Homo sapiens: one gene and its partners. The protein of the gene in region 1 interacts with the protein of each later gene in a biochemical or structural test. Each region holds a gene or a part of one and is shown on either strand. Other genes may lie near its edges.

Region 1 (3,500 bases):
TTTCCTTCACTATAGTTGGTTCGTTTTATTTTGAACTGTGTGGGTCCTTCCACCCTGGGTCCCACAGCCTTCCCACCCCACCCCTGAATAACTAAGTTTCTGGCTAGTTCCTATCTCAGAAGAACAAAGAATAGAGGTCTACTTTGAGTTGGCCATCCTGCACCTGAGGTTAGCATGCCATTCTTCACTCTGATAACTTTAGTTGCCAACTCTGCTCTTCAAAGTGCTGTGACTTTTGAAAGTCTCTGAGACTCCAAGCCATGGAAGATTGTTAATGAATTTTTATCATTTTAGAAAAGATCTGAAGACACTGTTATTACTTCCTGGACCTTGCTCAAATAAATTTTGTAATTCAAATTTGACATCCAATTTGCATTTGTTTATATAGAGTCTGTCATTATAAAACTGGCTGTAAGCTTATTAGTTTTTCTTAGGTCCACTTTTATCTTTCAGGACTATGATGAAAATGCAAATCAACCAACACTGAGTATTTACAATCAAGACGTTGACTCTGGTAGGAGCTGCAATTGATAGAAAGATGTATAAAATAGGAATTATTACCAACGAAGAGGAGAATATGGCCCAATACCCATAATGTCTATACCCGGAACAGAGAAAATTCTGCTCCTGCCCTCCCCACTTTGAGTCTCATACAAGTTGAACTGTTTTGCAATGAAAACAAAAGAGCAATTGAGAATTCATCTGTATCAAGAGAATATAAGCTCTCAGATGAGCTTTTGAAAATACTTCACTTTATGAATTAATTAATTAATTAAAAACTTCAAACAATTGCTGAGCTGTGTGGATTTTTTAAACTTGGTATGGTAAACATGGTTTCCAGCTGAGCCTCAAGCCCCCCCATTGAACCACTTTTTTGGCATGTTTGCTTGTCTGGAACCTCAGGACCCAGCTCTTTAAAACAAAACGCTCAGGACTGTTACCAAACCAGTCATCTCATGAGTTGTATGCCTTAGTATACAGCACAGTTGCTATCATAGCCTCCTGGATTTGAAACTTTGGGTAAAACTGTATTTCTATTTCCCCTTGGTTTACTGGTAATTCCTTTGCCCCTCTTCCATACCTCTCATTCTGATTGGTACCTGGTTTATATCATCATTCCTTTTTGACTAGAAGTCACCCAGTTCTTCATCTTGATATATTCTACACATCTTCCACAAACCAAACTTCCCGAAAGACTCTTTGACACTGGCCACAACCTTGCTGAAAAATGTCAGTGGCTTGACATTTCCCAGGTTAAATTATAAAAGCTTGGCAGGGCACAGTGGCTCACGCCTGTAATTCCAGCACTTTGGGAGTCCAATACCAGCCTGGCCAACATGATGAAACACCAACTCTACTAAAAATACAAAAATTAGCTGCCCATGGTGGCAGGCACCTGTAGTCCCAGCTACTCAGGAGGCTAAAGCAGGAGAATAGCTTGAACTCGGGAGGTGGAGGTTGCAGTGAACCAAGACAGCGCCACTGCACTCCAGCCTGGGTGACAGAGAGAGACTATCTCAGAAATAAAAATAAAATCTTTAGCTTGGTGTCTAAACCTTTACCAGAATAAACGTATCACCCTACCTTCCCCTTTTCCTCTTTTGGTGGTTTATGCAAACTCTGTTCCAACCAGATGGCCCTCGTCAATGTGTCACAAACACTCCTTGTGTTTTCTTAGTCCTGTGTCTTTGCTTTAACCTCCTCATCCCACAGCTTTGATTGCCCCTGTCATTCTTTCCAAATTCTACCCATCATTCAACATTCAGCTCATGTTCCATCTCTTCCCTGATGCTTCTGTGACTCCAAACTTCAAGGAATATTTCTCTTGACTCCTGAGAGCTCATTGCCTCACTCTGTCTTCAATGTGAGACTACTTTGAGTTTTTCATTGTAAATACCTACTCTGTCTACCTAACCATTTTGTTGATGTGATTAATCTCTTTGTATCACCTAGCACCTAGGTAACAGGGGTGCAATTATGGTTATGTGTGACTGAATCATCTATGAGTCTTCTTACCACCTTCTCTTACAGCCCATCACTCACCTCCTCTCCCCTTGCCACAGAGGTCAGATCCGTTCTCAGTTCATTGCCTCCAGAGTCCATTCCATCTTTCCCATTGTTTCCATTCTGTCTCAAACCCTCTTTCTCTCAGACTCTATTTGTGCCCTTTTGACAAAGTTGTGGCCCCAGGCCTCTTCTTACCTATGTCCATTCTGTACTCCACAGGCAGATTCATATTCTCAAAATACTTCAGAATGTCATTTTCCACTCCAAAGTTTTCAATACCATCCTTTTGCAATCATAATAAAATCCAGATTCCATAGCACATTCTAACACTAATAGAACGAATGAAGCTTCTCCTTTGCTACTTTCTCGCATGAGCCATCTGTCACAGTTAAATGAGTATATTCAGTTTCTGTGAGACACCTTATGGTTTTCTGCCTCTGTAACTTTGAGCATGTTACCCAGCCCCTATACGTACTAATAAATATTATTTCATATTATTTCATTTTGGAATTTCAGGCATTTTCAAAGCCCATTCCAAATACTTCTTTATGAAAGACTGGCCTGACAAAAGTCTGTATCAGCTCACAACATATTCATTTTTCGCATGCAAATTCATTATCTCCTCACCTGGACTGTGGCTCTGTGAAAATAGAAAATGCATATTCTCTCTCACAGAGCCTAACACTGTGCTCAGTCAAGACTTGCCAGTAAAAACTCCAACTTTAACACCTCAGTTAAAGACTAGGAAACTGATCTAAAAAAGGTAGAGAGAAAAAGCAATTCCCTCGAATTTTGAAGGAAATAAAAATATGGTAACGGGAAAGGTGAAAAATAAAGATCCTAAATACATAGAGGATTATTATGTAAAGTGAAAAACCAGAAAACTAGAGCCTGAAAGAAGTGCTAACTACAGACATTCTAAGAACACACTTAGCAATATATAACTCTTCTCTTTTAAGATACTTAAAAACATTTAAACTGAATGTTGTGAAGGCTATGCCATTTGGAGGGGGCACTTCTGTTTTCTTCCTCTTTCTGGGGAAATGAAAGCTTCTGTCACGACATCACAGAGCAATGAACTCTACTCAGAAAAGTAGTGAACAATTAATGAACAAGCAGAATGAACAAGCAGAGCATGAACAAGCCCTACTGCCTATTTGGAAATACCACCGGTCCTTAAACACTCTGAATAAAAAGGATGGCTGGAAGTTTCAGTTCTCTGATCATGAGTGCAAATTCTCCATCCTGTAAAAGCAACTGTACTTCCCACATCTCCCAGGGGGCAAAAAGTACAGTTAAATTACTTGCATCTGCACAACAAACCAAAGAAATAACATTCAGTTTGTGAGGGATGTGCAGAGCAGAGAGAGGAAGAGGCAACTTTGCTAACTCCTTCCAGGGCCACTCTTTAAAATTTCCCTTTGACCACCGAGCTTGTCTGAGCATGGATGCATCCAATCACTTCAAAGAGCGCTCTCTGTTCTGATGAATAT
Region 2 (4,164 bases), on another chromosome or scaffold:
GAGACGCCAGTTGTTGGGTGAGAACTGGACAAAGACTCATTTGTGAGTTCACAGCAGAAACCGCCTGGGGTGAAGATGACCCGTGAAAGTCAACACAAGATAAGGAATCCCACCGCCTCAAACTTTGGGCCTCTTCTTTTTTACAAGAAAGTTCGATGTCGAAAACTTGAACTTCTTCTGCCCAAAGTTTACAGACTGAGGTGGGGCAGTGCCTCGAGCAGCCCTGGGGTGCTGTGGGGGTGACAGAACTCCACCTCCTCAAACCAGCAGTGCCCACTCAAGGCAAATGCTGCCTCCTCAGTGTGGCTCCTGCCCAACCTGCCTAAAGGAATCTCACCCCCATCTTCTGATCCGGCTTAGTTTTTAATCACAGCTGTACTGTTAAATTTACTACCAGGAAGCATCTCAGTTGCCTTTTTAACCCTTTCCTTCACGTAAATGTAGGCTCACCAGGGTAGGAGCTTTGCCTTGTTGATGGTGCACACAGCCCTGGAAGAGTGCCTGGGACAGCGTGCCACCAGCGAATGTTTCTTTTGCTTACGAGATGGCTTCACATGAGGCTACTCTATAATAAAGGCACATGCACGAGATGCGTTACAATGGCTTCTGCTTGGGGCTTATTATGAAAATATTCTTCAGCTTTTCAAGAGATGGACTTATCATCAAACACACACACACACACACACACACACACACACACACACACACGCACAAACATTCTGAAACAGTCTAGTCCAGAGCTGCTGCTCTAGTCAAATTTTTAATAAGTGTTCTGAAAAGGCAGTAGCGTCACAGAGTACGTAGTAGCCTACTGATGAAGAGATTTCAGCATTTTCTTGCTCTTCTAAACTGTGCCAATCTTACTACCCAAGTGACATGAAGACGCTATGACCCTCCATTCATGCTGTTGCATAATATGAACTGCTGCCATGGAGCCTTAGAGTCTGCATTCAATACGCGTTTAATTTTAAATAACCGTGCAACTACCCACAGAGTAGCAGCCAAGAGTTTGCAAACAGCAGGAGCCCTTTTTTTTTTTTTTTTTTGAGACGGAGTCTAGCTCTGTCACCCAGGCTTGAGTGCAGTGGCGATCTCAGCTCACTGCAACCTCTGCTTCCTGGGTTCAAGCGATTCTCCTGCCTCAGCCTCCCGAGCAGCTGAGATTACAGGCGCCCACCACCACGCCCAGATAATTTTTGTATTTTTAGTAGAGATGGGGTTTTCACTGTGTTGGCCAGGCTGGTCTCGAACTCCTGACCTCGTGATTCGGCCATCTCAGCCTCCCAAGGTCCTGGGATTACAGGCGTGAGCCACTGAGCCTGGCCAAGACGTTTTTAACAAAGAAGAAAATACTTTCACAAAATTGTCAAGACCTGCTGATTTTAAATTATGCTAGACAAACCTGTATGTGGGGAGAAGTAACAGGACAATAACACCACATACTGTTCTAAGTGGATTTACCATTGCTAAGCAGTACCCAGTCCCAAAAGGGTTAACAAGACAACCAAGGTATGGACCACAGCCCATGTTTGCCTCTCCAAGCTTAACACTGTAACTAAGGAACCAAAATTACATGAGAACACAAAGTCCTTTCCAATCTATAATTTTCGTAAAATTCAGAACAGGCTCTAAGGTGGTAACAGAATTTCTTCAGGTGGCAATTTTTTAGAGAACTAGATTTCTGATTAGATAACAAAATCCTTACCCATTCTACAATGCTACAGTTATGTGCGTATGTCTCAAATATTCTGAGTTAACAAAAGTTTAAATGTCAGCAGAATAAATAAAACCAAATTTACATAATGCACTGGTCTTTGCAGCTATTACAATCAATACTATCAGATTTCAGGACATAAAGTGTCGCCTTCTTACCATGTCCTCCCAAAATGACTGCCTGCCAGTGTCACCTGTGTGAGGATGCACACCTCTGACAACAGAAGTGGGTGAAGCCCCGATGAAACCTTGGGCACCAGCAATGCTTGGGTGCAAGTCTGACTGTCCCTATCTTGGGTAAGTTCCAGGACAGCTCTGAAAGGCAAATCTGGCCCTTGAGACTCGCAGGTCCCACTGTCCGTCAGGTGCCGGGGAGAGTCCCTGCACCCAGGTGGTCAAGGGGACAGGCTGGCTCTCCACACCAAAAACACAGCATTTTGGGAAATGCTTATCATTTGGCCAATGGCTCAGAACTGCCCTTTTCTTCATAAGGAATGAGAATCATTTGAAAAGTTAAGTGGTCTCCCCTGCAGCAATTGCCTGGCCCACAGGATCTCTGGCCCTCAATGTAACCTCATGAGGAGTTTGGACTATCACTGGCTACTCGTCACAGTATAACTTGTCCGTTACCCTGACAAGTATAAGAATGAAAAACAGTAGCCCCTGAATAGAATCCTTTGGAACTTACAGGTGCCTTCTTGTCGATGGGTTTAATGACAAACTTTTTGTCATTGAAAGAGATGTTCCTGATTTCACTCCAAGGAAAGCCAATCTTTGGGGTTAACCTGAGGTTAAAAAGAAGAAGTGGATGGTTAGATGTATACATATGTTCTTGGATTGGCTAAGAGAGATTCGCAAATCAATTCTTATTAGTTCAATTAAAATAATATGAAGCTAACCCAAGAGGCACAATGTGTTATATGCTATTATCAAATAGTTCCCACCTGTCCTAGGTTAAGCCAAGTGGTTGGCTGCAAGGCATCTGCAACCTTAATCTGTTCCCATTTCCTTTGGTTTTTCCTCAGTCTAGGGCACCTATGATTACCCAGGCTGGTGATCTCGAGGTCAACTGAAATTCCTACCCAGGTACCTTGACCCTCCCCCTCAGGTATCTTCTGCTGTTCATTCCCACATCACATCACCACACTCACCTACCTCTCATCCTGCCAGAGCCCACTCTCAAGCTGTGTGCTGGAGCAGCCCTACTTTCAGTCTGCTGATCTGATTAATTTCCTCTCCTCCCATGTCAACACAGTCCTTAACTCAGCATCCAAGAGCTGTCAAATCCAGCCCCAAACTCCACGGTTCAGACCCACCTTTCAACACACAGTTCCCCAGGGCTGCCTCCCTTTCCCTTGAGGCCTCTCTTAACATACAGGCTCTTCTGCTACAGACTGTTGAATGTTATTTAAGTTACTGATCATTTAGTTCTATGAAACCAACAGGGAGGGCCAAGATCCCATCACGTTCCTAGACGTGCCATACTCAACAGAGCTTGCCAAGAGAAACGGACAGAGGCCTTGCTATGCATTCTGCTCCTCTGGTTCTCATTCCAGTGTGTGTTCTCCTGGCTGGACAGACATCTTCCCATGTCACTCTCCAACTTCCAGGACAGCCTTCAAACTAACCGCCCTAATGAAGGCCCCACAGGGCTAATCCTACTTAACCAATGCAATGCCATGACTGGCCAGACTCTGGCTTTTATTAGCATTCCCAAGTTCATCATGTGACTTCAAGACCACATTGCTCTGCTCACCTGACACTTCCCACCCTATTCTTCCAACACATTTTACCAGGGATAATGCCATTCTGGAAATAACGACAAATCCTCAAAACCACCATCCAACAATGCTGCCCTCCAAAGCAGTCCTTTCCAACATCCCACAAAAACCTTCATTTTAGAAGTAGCAGGAAGGTCAAGCAATCTATGGCCTACCAACAGCTTCAATACTGATGAGCAATACAGGTTTCGTTATGATCACATCAACTAGATCAAGGCAGTGGGGTGGACTCTGTAGGCTGAGGGCAAACATGTAAGCCTGACATGGCCCTTCTGGGGAATTAGCGCAGTCAGTCATGGTGTGCCTGCAGGAATGATGGCAGGACACTGGCCAGACCATGGTTCTAAATGTCAAAGCTTTTGTATACATCCTTTCTTTTACAGTGCTATGCTCTAGAATCACCAATCCCCATTAAAAAAAAACACACCTGGCATTCAAACAGACATGCAATGAGTTTGTTCTTTTATCTTCGAGATGTAATTTTCTTTACAGGTTTCAGAGCATTAAAGGGGAACTCCAGATACCACCTTGCCCTGCTACTGACTTCAGCCTATGTCCTCCTTACATTGAAAGGCTGTGAAAGTGGCACCAGGTAGGCATGTGTTGCTTCTGGAGCACTTTCTCCCAAAACACAAGAGCAGCCTGCTGGCACCAACAGAGAAGCTAGGAT
Region 3 (4,164 bases), on another chromosome or scaffold:
GCAAGAATCTACAAAATCGGAAGCACGTTGCTCTCTCCGTGTTTTGGGACTCAAGCAAACCTATAATGTGCATCCCCTTCGAGCAGGTCATAGAAAGGAGCCGGGGCAACAACCACTCAACTGACTCCAATTACACAGGAAAGGGACCCAGAGTCTCAGGCCCAGGCTTCTCAGGACTGCAAAGTGGCACTGGAGACAGGGACATTGACCTGCCACTTCTAAATATTTCAGTGGTAGTGTTATATCCGTTTGACTTTACCAAGAATATACATTACTTTTACACACACACACACAAACACAGATCTGCAAATCTGCATTCCTATTCCAGATATTCAGATGCATTGTAAAAATATATGCAAAGACAATATATATTTTTCTCTTGGTAATTGTGGAACACTGAATGTCAAACAGCATGTACTAGGTGGGAAGGACTGGGAGAATTATTCACAAGGATCAAATCTTACTTTGTGTATTTAACTGTAGATTAATTAATTGCTTTTATTTTAGTATTTGTTTTTTGAGACAGAGTCTTGCTCTGTCACCCAGGCTGGAGTGCAGTGGCGCGATCTCAGCTCACTGCAATCTCCGCCTCCTGTGTTCAAGTGATTCTCCTGCCTCAGCCTCCCGAGTAGCTGGGACTACAGGCACGCACCACTATGCCTGGCTAATTTTTTTTTTTTCTAGTAGAGATGGGGTATCACCAGGTTGGCCAGGCTGGTCTCGAACTCCTGACCTCAAGTGATCCACCTGCCTTGGCCTCCCAAAGTGCTGGGATTACAGGCGTGAGCCACTGTGCCTGGCCTAACTATAGATTAATTTAGAACCACTTATAGAATATGACCTGCAACTGTATCTAAGAGAAATACGATGCATAAAAAGTTTTAATATAAAAATAGCGTTTGACGTCTTATACATATCATAACAAATATATCTTGTCTTGTTGAACCTTCAGTTTTTACTTACTTTGGTAATGTTTAATCATGTCGCTGATACAGGGAAAAGTGATTCGTGGAGAGATGTAATAGCCCCCATTATCCAGACTTCTAATTTTGTAGTGCTTAATAACATCACCATGCACAGGGTCAAAGTCTCTGACAGACAGAGAGAAGCTTCCTATGGGGGGAAAAGTGTAAGTAAATGTTTATATCTCACAAATAAGATCTGCATTATACAACAACTGCAGTACACATTTTGTGATACAAATATGCAAAATACATATATTTATGAAATTTGTATAAAATGCATAATTTTAAAAGTCCTATAAAAATTCTACTTGACAAATGAAGCTGGCATTTTGTTTGCTGTGTAGCTTGCCAACATACCATTTTCTTTCTTCATGATAATTTTTTTAAAATTATTATTTAGCTACATTTAAATTTTTTTAAGTTACTTTGATTTTCTTTTTTTTTTTTTTGAAATAGGTTGTTGCTCTGTCACCCAGGCTAGAGTAGAGTGGCACAATCATAGCTAACTGCAGCCTCCACCTCTTGGGCTCAAACGATCTTTCTACCCCAACCTCTCAAGTAGCTGAGACTACGATCATGCACCACCACAGCTGGCTAATTTTTTAATTTCTTATAGAAACAGGCTCTTGCTATGTTGCCCAGGCTGGTATCAAACTGCTGGGTTCAAGTGATTCTCAGTCTCGGCCTCCCAAAGCATTGGGATTACAGGCCTGAGCCACCACGCCCAGCCTAATTTTCTTTGTCTTAAAACTTCAGGATTTATTCAAATAATAATGCAAAAGGCTCAGCAAACAAAGCCTGGTAAGAACTGGCCACAATCATGTGTGCTTTCTACAGTACTTTTCTTTTCTTTTCTCTTTTTTTTTTGAGACAGTGCCTCACTCTGTCACTCAGGCTAGTTAGAGTGCAGTGGCGTGATCACGGCTCACTGCAGCCTCCCTTCCCTGGGTTCAGGTGATCTTCCTACCTCAGCCTCCAGAGTAGCTGGGACTATAGGCATGTGCTGCCAGGCCTGGCTAAGTTTTGTATTTCTTGTAGAGATGGGGTCTTGCTGTGTTGCCCAGGCTGGTCTCTAACTGCTGGACTCAAGTGATCCTCTCGCCTCAGCCTCCCAAAGTGTTAGGATTACAGGTGTGAGCCACCACACTCAACTATATTACTTTTAGTAGCACAACTAATCACTGAGGTTTGTTATTTGTTATCAAACCATAAAACTTTTACTACCAGAGCATACTATATGCCCTTTTTTCCCCTTGAGTAGCTCTAGAATAGTTTCTAAAAATAATTTCCTAAATAGTGTTTTAAAAGAGGCTTTGAACAATTTCCTACCTTTTAATGTTTCACTTTCTCTAATAAGGAAAGCTCCAGCGCTATTTCCTGGTGCCAAAAGCTGCCTTTCTGCGTCCTTCCTGGTTATATCCTTGAAAAACCACCTGTGAAGACATTTCAACATTTCCTGCATATTATGTTCCACGGCAAGAAAAAGGTGAAGAATATTAACAAGAAATCCAATGTGGCAAATAAAGCCACCAAGATGACAACACATGAGGACTCACTCTTCTGTTTCTAAGGTGTTGAGTTTGGCCACATAGTTGCTGGGGATGAAGCCTTCTTTTTTTGTTAAAAGGGACTTTGCTTTCCACCATTCTCCATGCCTAGAATAGAAATACACATCAAAAAGAAGCTAAAAGATTACATACTCCATGCATGTATCAAAATATCACAGATATCCCATAAATATGTATTTATGTACAGATATTACATATCAATTAAAAAATTAAAAATAAAGAAAACATAGACTTACCACAGGACCCAGCAACTATACTCCTTGACATATACCCAAGAAAGATGAAACCATAATGTCCACACAAAAACTTGTACATGAATGTTCAAAGCATCCTTATTTGTAAAAGCAAAAAGTAGAAACAACCAAAATGCCTATCAACTGATGAATGGACAAAATCTGGAATATCCATCCAGTGGAGTATTACTCAGCAGTGAAAGGAATGGAGTGCTGAGAGATGCTACAACAGGGATGAACTTTGAAAACATTATGCTAAATAAAAGAAGGCAGTCAAAAAGGACCACATATTGTATGATTCCATTTATGTGAAATATCCAGAATAGGTCAGTCTTCAGAGATAAAAAGTAGATTCGTGGTTTCCTAGGGCTGCAGAGAATGGGAGAGTTGAGGTGACAGCTAAGGGGTGCAGGGTTTCCTTTTGGGGTATTTAAAATGTTCTAAAATGGATTGTGGTGATGATTGCACAATTCTGTGACTATACTAAAAAAATCACTGAATTGTACACTTTAAGTAGATGGATTGTATGGTATTGTGAATTCTCAATAAAGCTATTAAAAAGAGAGAGAGAGAGACAAAGAAAAGAAGCCAGGAGTGAGGGTTTTGAATGTTCACAACACAAAGAAAGAATAAATGTTCCAGATGATGGATATGCTAATTACGCTGACTTGATCCGTACACACTGCATACATGTATCAAAATATCGCTCTGTATCCCATGACTGCATATAATTATTCCATGTCAACTAAAAATAAAAGGAAAAAAGTGTTTATATCCAAGACTCAACAGCTACAATAGCAATTGTCTCAAGATGTTTGTTTAGGATGGTGAAGGCGGGTGGAGAACATCTCTGGAACCCCAGAATCCAGTGGGAAAATTCACTCTCCGTGATGGAATTAAAATATGTTTAGAGACAGAAGCAAAGGAAAACAGCCTTACAACTAAAGCACGCATCACTGCGATCAGGGGTGCACAAAGAAGAGTTGGTACAAATGGCTCCCATCTCACAGAAACAAAAGGTTTGTAACTTGCCCCAGGATAGCTAAGAAATGCTTTCAAATCCTTATAGAAATGAGAGTCAAGGGAATACTGGTCCACAGTTCATGCATTATAAACTCCTTTGTTCAAACATCTAGTTATCATAGAGATGGACACTATGAAAAGAAGAAAACCATAAGACAATTCCAAGCAAGTGAGCTTCAGCACCATGCTCGAGTCCTCAGCAGAAAGGCAGGCATGGAGCCAGGGAGGAGGCAGGGATGAGCACTGGAAGAAGCAAGCAGGTAAGCTGGTAATGGGGGAAGGAATGGGTCCCTTTGAGCCTTAACTGCATTCCTCTATAAATTCCACACACAGACAGGATCCTTGTCTGTAAGGCATGAAGGCAACTAGAACTAA
Region 4 (4,164 bases), on another chromosome or scaffold:
TCCCCTTGCACGTTCCCTGCAGGGACCTCGGTGCTGCCCACCTGGGCTGGCAAGGCTTTTAGTTTAGAGGGGGGAAAGGGACAATTCTTTTCTTCCAACAAACTAAACTAAAAAAGGGAAGCTGCCTCCCAAAAGACGCTGGGATTTGACATGAGAGTGGCTGCCGTCTTCCCTCTGCTCGTCTGACATGCACAGCTCACCATTCTCATCCGGAGGCTAGGTAAATCTGTCGAGGTCAAGTCAGGACCTGGTGTCATGGAAACCACCAGGGCCAGCGCCCCATGCTCAGGAGCACAGCAAGCACTGGGCAGACGGTACCCTGGAGCCCATCAGGCCCCAGATCCTCAGGTCCTCTCTAGTGGGACACATCTAGCTGCCTGCTGAGGTCATGTAAATAGAACATCATTGCTAAAGGGAAACCTAGAGGTCCCGAGACAGCCCCCGATCTCCTCACTGGACAGACCATGTGGGCAGGAAGTGGCTGCCTCCTTTGACGGAAACTGAGGCCAGCAAAGTTAGGAAGTGGGGCAGGGTCAGGGCAGCATGCGGTGGAGGCCGGCGAGGATCCTGGGCTTCCTTTGAGTCCCGATGTGGTTGGCTTTTTTATTCTTCCTCCTCTTCCTCCTGGCCTGGCTCTGCGGTCTGGGTCAGGTGGATGTGCTCTCTTTCGAAGGGAGACCCATTTCAGATGCCACTGGCTTTCTTGCCTTTGCCTTCTGCAGGACCCTCCTTCTCAGTGAGCGCTCCTCCCAGCACTTCTCCTAGGGACAGCAGGCTAAGTCCATGTGTCCCTGCTCTGCCCTGCACAGTGTGCTGCCACCCTCAACCGGGCAACCCTCGGGCTGGCCTCTGCCCCTGTGACCAGTCAGTGCCAGGGCTGAGCAATCCCCCCATCTATCACCTCTCCCTGAACCCGAAGGGAAAGACCTCAAGGAGGTTGTTGTGGTAAGAAAAATCACTATGCGCCACTGAACCTCTTTCTCCACAGTCTTGTCTTTCACCTCCCGCCTGGCTCTCTGTCCCTCACGAGGTTAACATCTTGACAGAGCCTCCTCAGTGTCTCTTAGACACACCCCTCAGCCCCACCCCACCCATGGATTTGCCGAGCTGCTCCCTGAGCACGTGTTCCCGTGACTGTGTGCCTGGACTCTTGCGTAACCTTCAAACAATCCTCCCTGCCTCCAGTCTGCACACGGCAGGCTTCCGGGATGACCTCTGAACAGAACGCGTCCCCATTCCCACACCTACCAAGCATGGCGTTCAAAGTGTCTCCAGCTCTGCCCTCCCCAGGCCCATTTTCTGGTTCAACACTCATGCCAAGCCAACCGCCCCATCCTCGTTCCTTGCCCCAAACTCTGCAGGCTGGGCTCATCATGCTTGCTCCTAGCTTCACCAGCCCTGTTGCCCTCACTGCCAGGCAAGGCCTGCTCTCCGCTCCCCAGTGACCTCTGTCCTCTGAGAGCCCCGAGGCTTCCCTGAGTTACCTTGTGGAGCACGTTTCCCTGCAGCTCCAAATCCTAGGCATTTGCCCATTGACCTTTAAAAGCCTGGAGGCAGGGCCTATACAGCCCTCCTCTGGCCTCCTCTGAGATGCCAGGCTTAAAGTCTTACAAGTAGCAAATCCTCAACAAGTATTTGTTAAATGAATGCTTTAAGCAATCTGTGGCTGGGTGCAGTGGCTCACACCTTTAATCCCAACACTTTGGAAGGCAGAGGTGGGAGGATCGCTTGAGGCCAGGAGTTCAAGGCTACAGTGAGCAATGATGGCACCACTACACTGCAGCCTGGGTGACAGAACAAGACCCTGTCTCAATAAAAAAAAAAAAAAAAATCAACAATCTTTGTAGTAGAGGGTTTTCAGTAATGCCCCTCCTAACATGAAAGGGATTTAAGCAAGCCAATTGCTTATTTCTGCATGGGCCAGGGACCCCAGTTCCTGACCTTCTCAAGAGATATGAACCTGACCCTTCTGAGTGTAGAACTGGGCTGTGGGGCCAGGAGATGTGGGTTTCAATCCCAGGACCCCCACTGGTGGCTGTGCCATCTTGAGCAAGGCACTTTGTTTCTCCGAGTCTCTATTTCTTCACTGGTAAACAAAGGCACAAATACCTCTTCACCACATCATAAGGGGATTAAATGATGTAAGAAAAAGGATGTTGTATAGTCGTGCACATAGTAGGGCAGCAGGTCCAGGAGGTGGACGGCCCATCCAGGGACCCAGCGGAGCAGCCACTTCCCCACTTCTCAAGGGTGGTCACCAGGTATGTCCGCAGGGCTGCCCCCTGCCCATCTCCAAGGCCTGACTGGCTGATCTCAGCTACACATTGGATACTAAGTCCTAGGGCCAGAGCCAGCAGAGAGGTTTGCCTTACCTTGGAAGTGGACGTAGGTGTTGAAAGCCAGGGTGCTGTCCACACTGGCTCCCATCAGGGAGCAGCCAGTCTTCCATCCTGTCACAGCCTGCATGAACCTGTCAATCTTCTCAGCAGCAACATCCAGTTCTGTGAAGTCCAGAGAGCGTGGGAGGACCACAGGGGTATAGAGAGCCAGGCCCTGCACAAACGGCTGCTTCAGGTGCAGGCCTGGGGCTGTGAACACGCCCACCACCGTGGACAGCAGCAGCTGGGCCTGGCTATCAGCCCTGCCCTGGGCCACTAGCAGGCCCTGTACAGCCTGCAGGGCAGACAGGACCTTGTGCGCATCCAGCCGGGAGGTGCAGTTCTTGTCCTTCCAAGGAACACCCAGGATTGCCTGTAGCCTGTCAGCTGTGTGGTCCAAGGCTCCCAGATAGAGAGAGGCCAGGGTGCCAAAGACAGCCGTTGGGGAGAGGACGGTGGCCCCATGGACCACGCCCCATAGCTCACTGTGCATGCCATATATACGGAAGCCCAAGAAGTTGGCCAGCATCCCGACCATTGCGGCCCTCAACTTGTCTTCGGTGTCAAGTTTTGCAGCGACTAGCACCAGCTGGTCCTGTAGGGCCTTTTCATCCACAGGGGATGTCTTGGCCTGAATTGGAGCAGGTATGAAGGTGGGGTCTTTGGGCTTCCCGGCATTGGCCTTTGCCAGCTGCTCACAGGTACTCTCATTGTGGATGACGAGGTGGAAGGGGTGTATGTACACCCGGTCACCTGCAGCCAGGCCAGCCCAGGCCAGGAGGCAGAGGATGGTGGCCCTCAGGCTCACACCGGCAGGAGCCATCTCAGACTGGGGTGCTCGCTTCCGCATACCCTGAAATATCATTTTGCAAAGGGTGAAAGGTGGTTATTAACTGACCTTTAAGTGCCATCTAACCAGATCTTTCATTGTCTCAATATTCCCTGTCACCATTTAGCCCAGAATAAATCCATTCATGTCTACAAAAAAAAGAAGAAATGGATTCAAAGCTCCATGGAAAATATCTACATGATCCAAGTGCAAAATGCACCAATATCAGCTGAATTATGTCCTACCTCCCCCAACGGCCATAATGCCCGTGTTGAAGTCCTCAACCCCAGGACCTCAGAATGTGACCATTATTTGGAGACAGGATCTTTAAAGAGATGATTAAGTTAAAATGAGGCCATGAGGGTGAGCCCTGATCTAATATGACCTGTGTCCTTATGAGAAGAGGAGATGAGGACATGGACACACACAGAGGGAAGACCATGTGGGGACACAGAGGGAAGACCATGTGGGGACACAGAGAGAAGACGGCCATCTACAAGCCAAGGATAGAGGACCCAGAGGAAACCAACTCTGCTGATGGCTGGCTCCCAGGCTTCTAGCTTCCAGAACTGTGAGATAACACATTTCTGTTGTTAAACCCTCCCAGTCTGTGGTACTTATGGCAGCCCAAGCAGATTAAGACATGCTCCTGCCTGCAGCTGTAAGTTCTCTTCCTAGAGAAACAAGTGTGTGCCAATCAGTAGGTCTTTGTGGAGGCCTCCTAGACCCCTGAGATGCTCATTCGAGGGCCCTAGGGTGAGGGCTGGGGATGGTTTTGTCATCTCCCTGTGGTCCCAACATGCAGCCGGGATTGAGCACCACAGGCTCAGCCCAAAGTCCAAGTATTTCCCACGTGTCTCAACCCCAAAACCAGCTCTCAACCATCCCTGCATAGCGCTATCCCCTGCAGAGCCCCAAAGGCATGCATACCTAGCATGGCTTGCCCAATGATAGTTG

The links.
Region 2: the proteins of MME (region 1) and EZR form a complex in vitro, tested with the Homo sapiens proteins (one study listed by BioGRID).
Region 3: the proteins of MME (region 1) and LYN form a complex in vitro, tested with the Homo sapiens proteins (one study listed by BioGRID).
Region 4: of the proteins of MME (region 1) and AGT, one has a biochemical effect on the other in vitro, tested with the Homo sapiens proteins (one study listed by BioGRID).

Annotation. Positions count from the first base shown.
Region 1 is NC_000003.12:155,111,319-155,114,818, reverse strand, and holds part of MME (neprilysin), read right to left. Parts: intron 1-3,500. UniProt on the Homo sapiens protein: Thermolysin-like specificity, but is almost confined on acting on polypeptides of up to 30 amino acids. Biologically important in the destruction of opioid peptides such as Met- and Leu-enkephalins by cleavage of a Gly-Phe bond.
Region 2 is NC_000006.12:158,774,007-158,778,170, forward strand, and holds part of EZR (ezrin), read right to left. Parts: intron 2,499-4,164; coding exon 2,402-2,498; intron 1-2,401. UniProt on the Homo sapiens protein: Probably involved in connections of major cytoskeletal structures to the plasma membrane. In epithelial cells, required for the formation of microvilli and membrane ruffles on the apical pole. Along with PLEKHG6, required for normal macropinocytosis.
Region 3 is NC_000008.11:55,948,915-55,953,078, reverse strand, and holds part of LYN (tyrosine-protein kinase Lyn), read right to left. Parts: intron 2,621-4,164; coding exon 2,522-2,620; intron 2,399-2,521; coding exon 2,295-2,398; intron 1,114-2,294; coding exon 964-1,113; intron 1-963. UniProt on the Homo sapiens protein: Non-receptor tyrosine-protein kinase that transmits signals from cell surface receptors and plays an important role in the regulation of innate and adaptive immune responses, hematopoiesis, responses to growth factors and cytokines, integrin signaling, but also responses to DNA damage and genotoxic agents.
Region 4 is NC_000001.11:230,707,623-230,711,786, forward strand, and holds part of AGT (angiotensinogen precursor), read right to left. Parts: intron 3,232-4,164; 5' UTR 3,202-3,231; coding exon 2,373-3,201; intron 1-2,372. UniProt on the Homo sapiens protein: Essential component of the renin-angiotensin system (RAS), a potent regulator of blood pressure, body fluid and electrolyte homeostasis.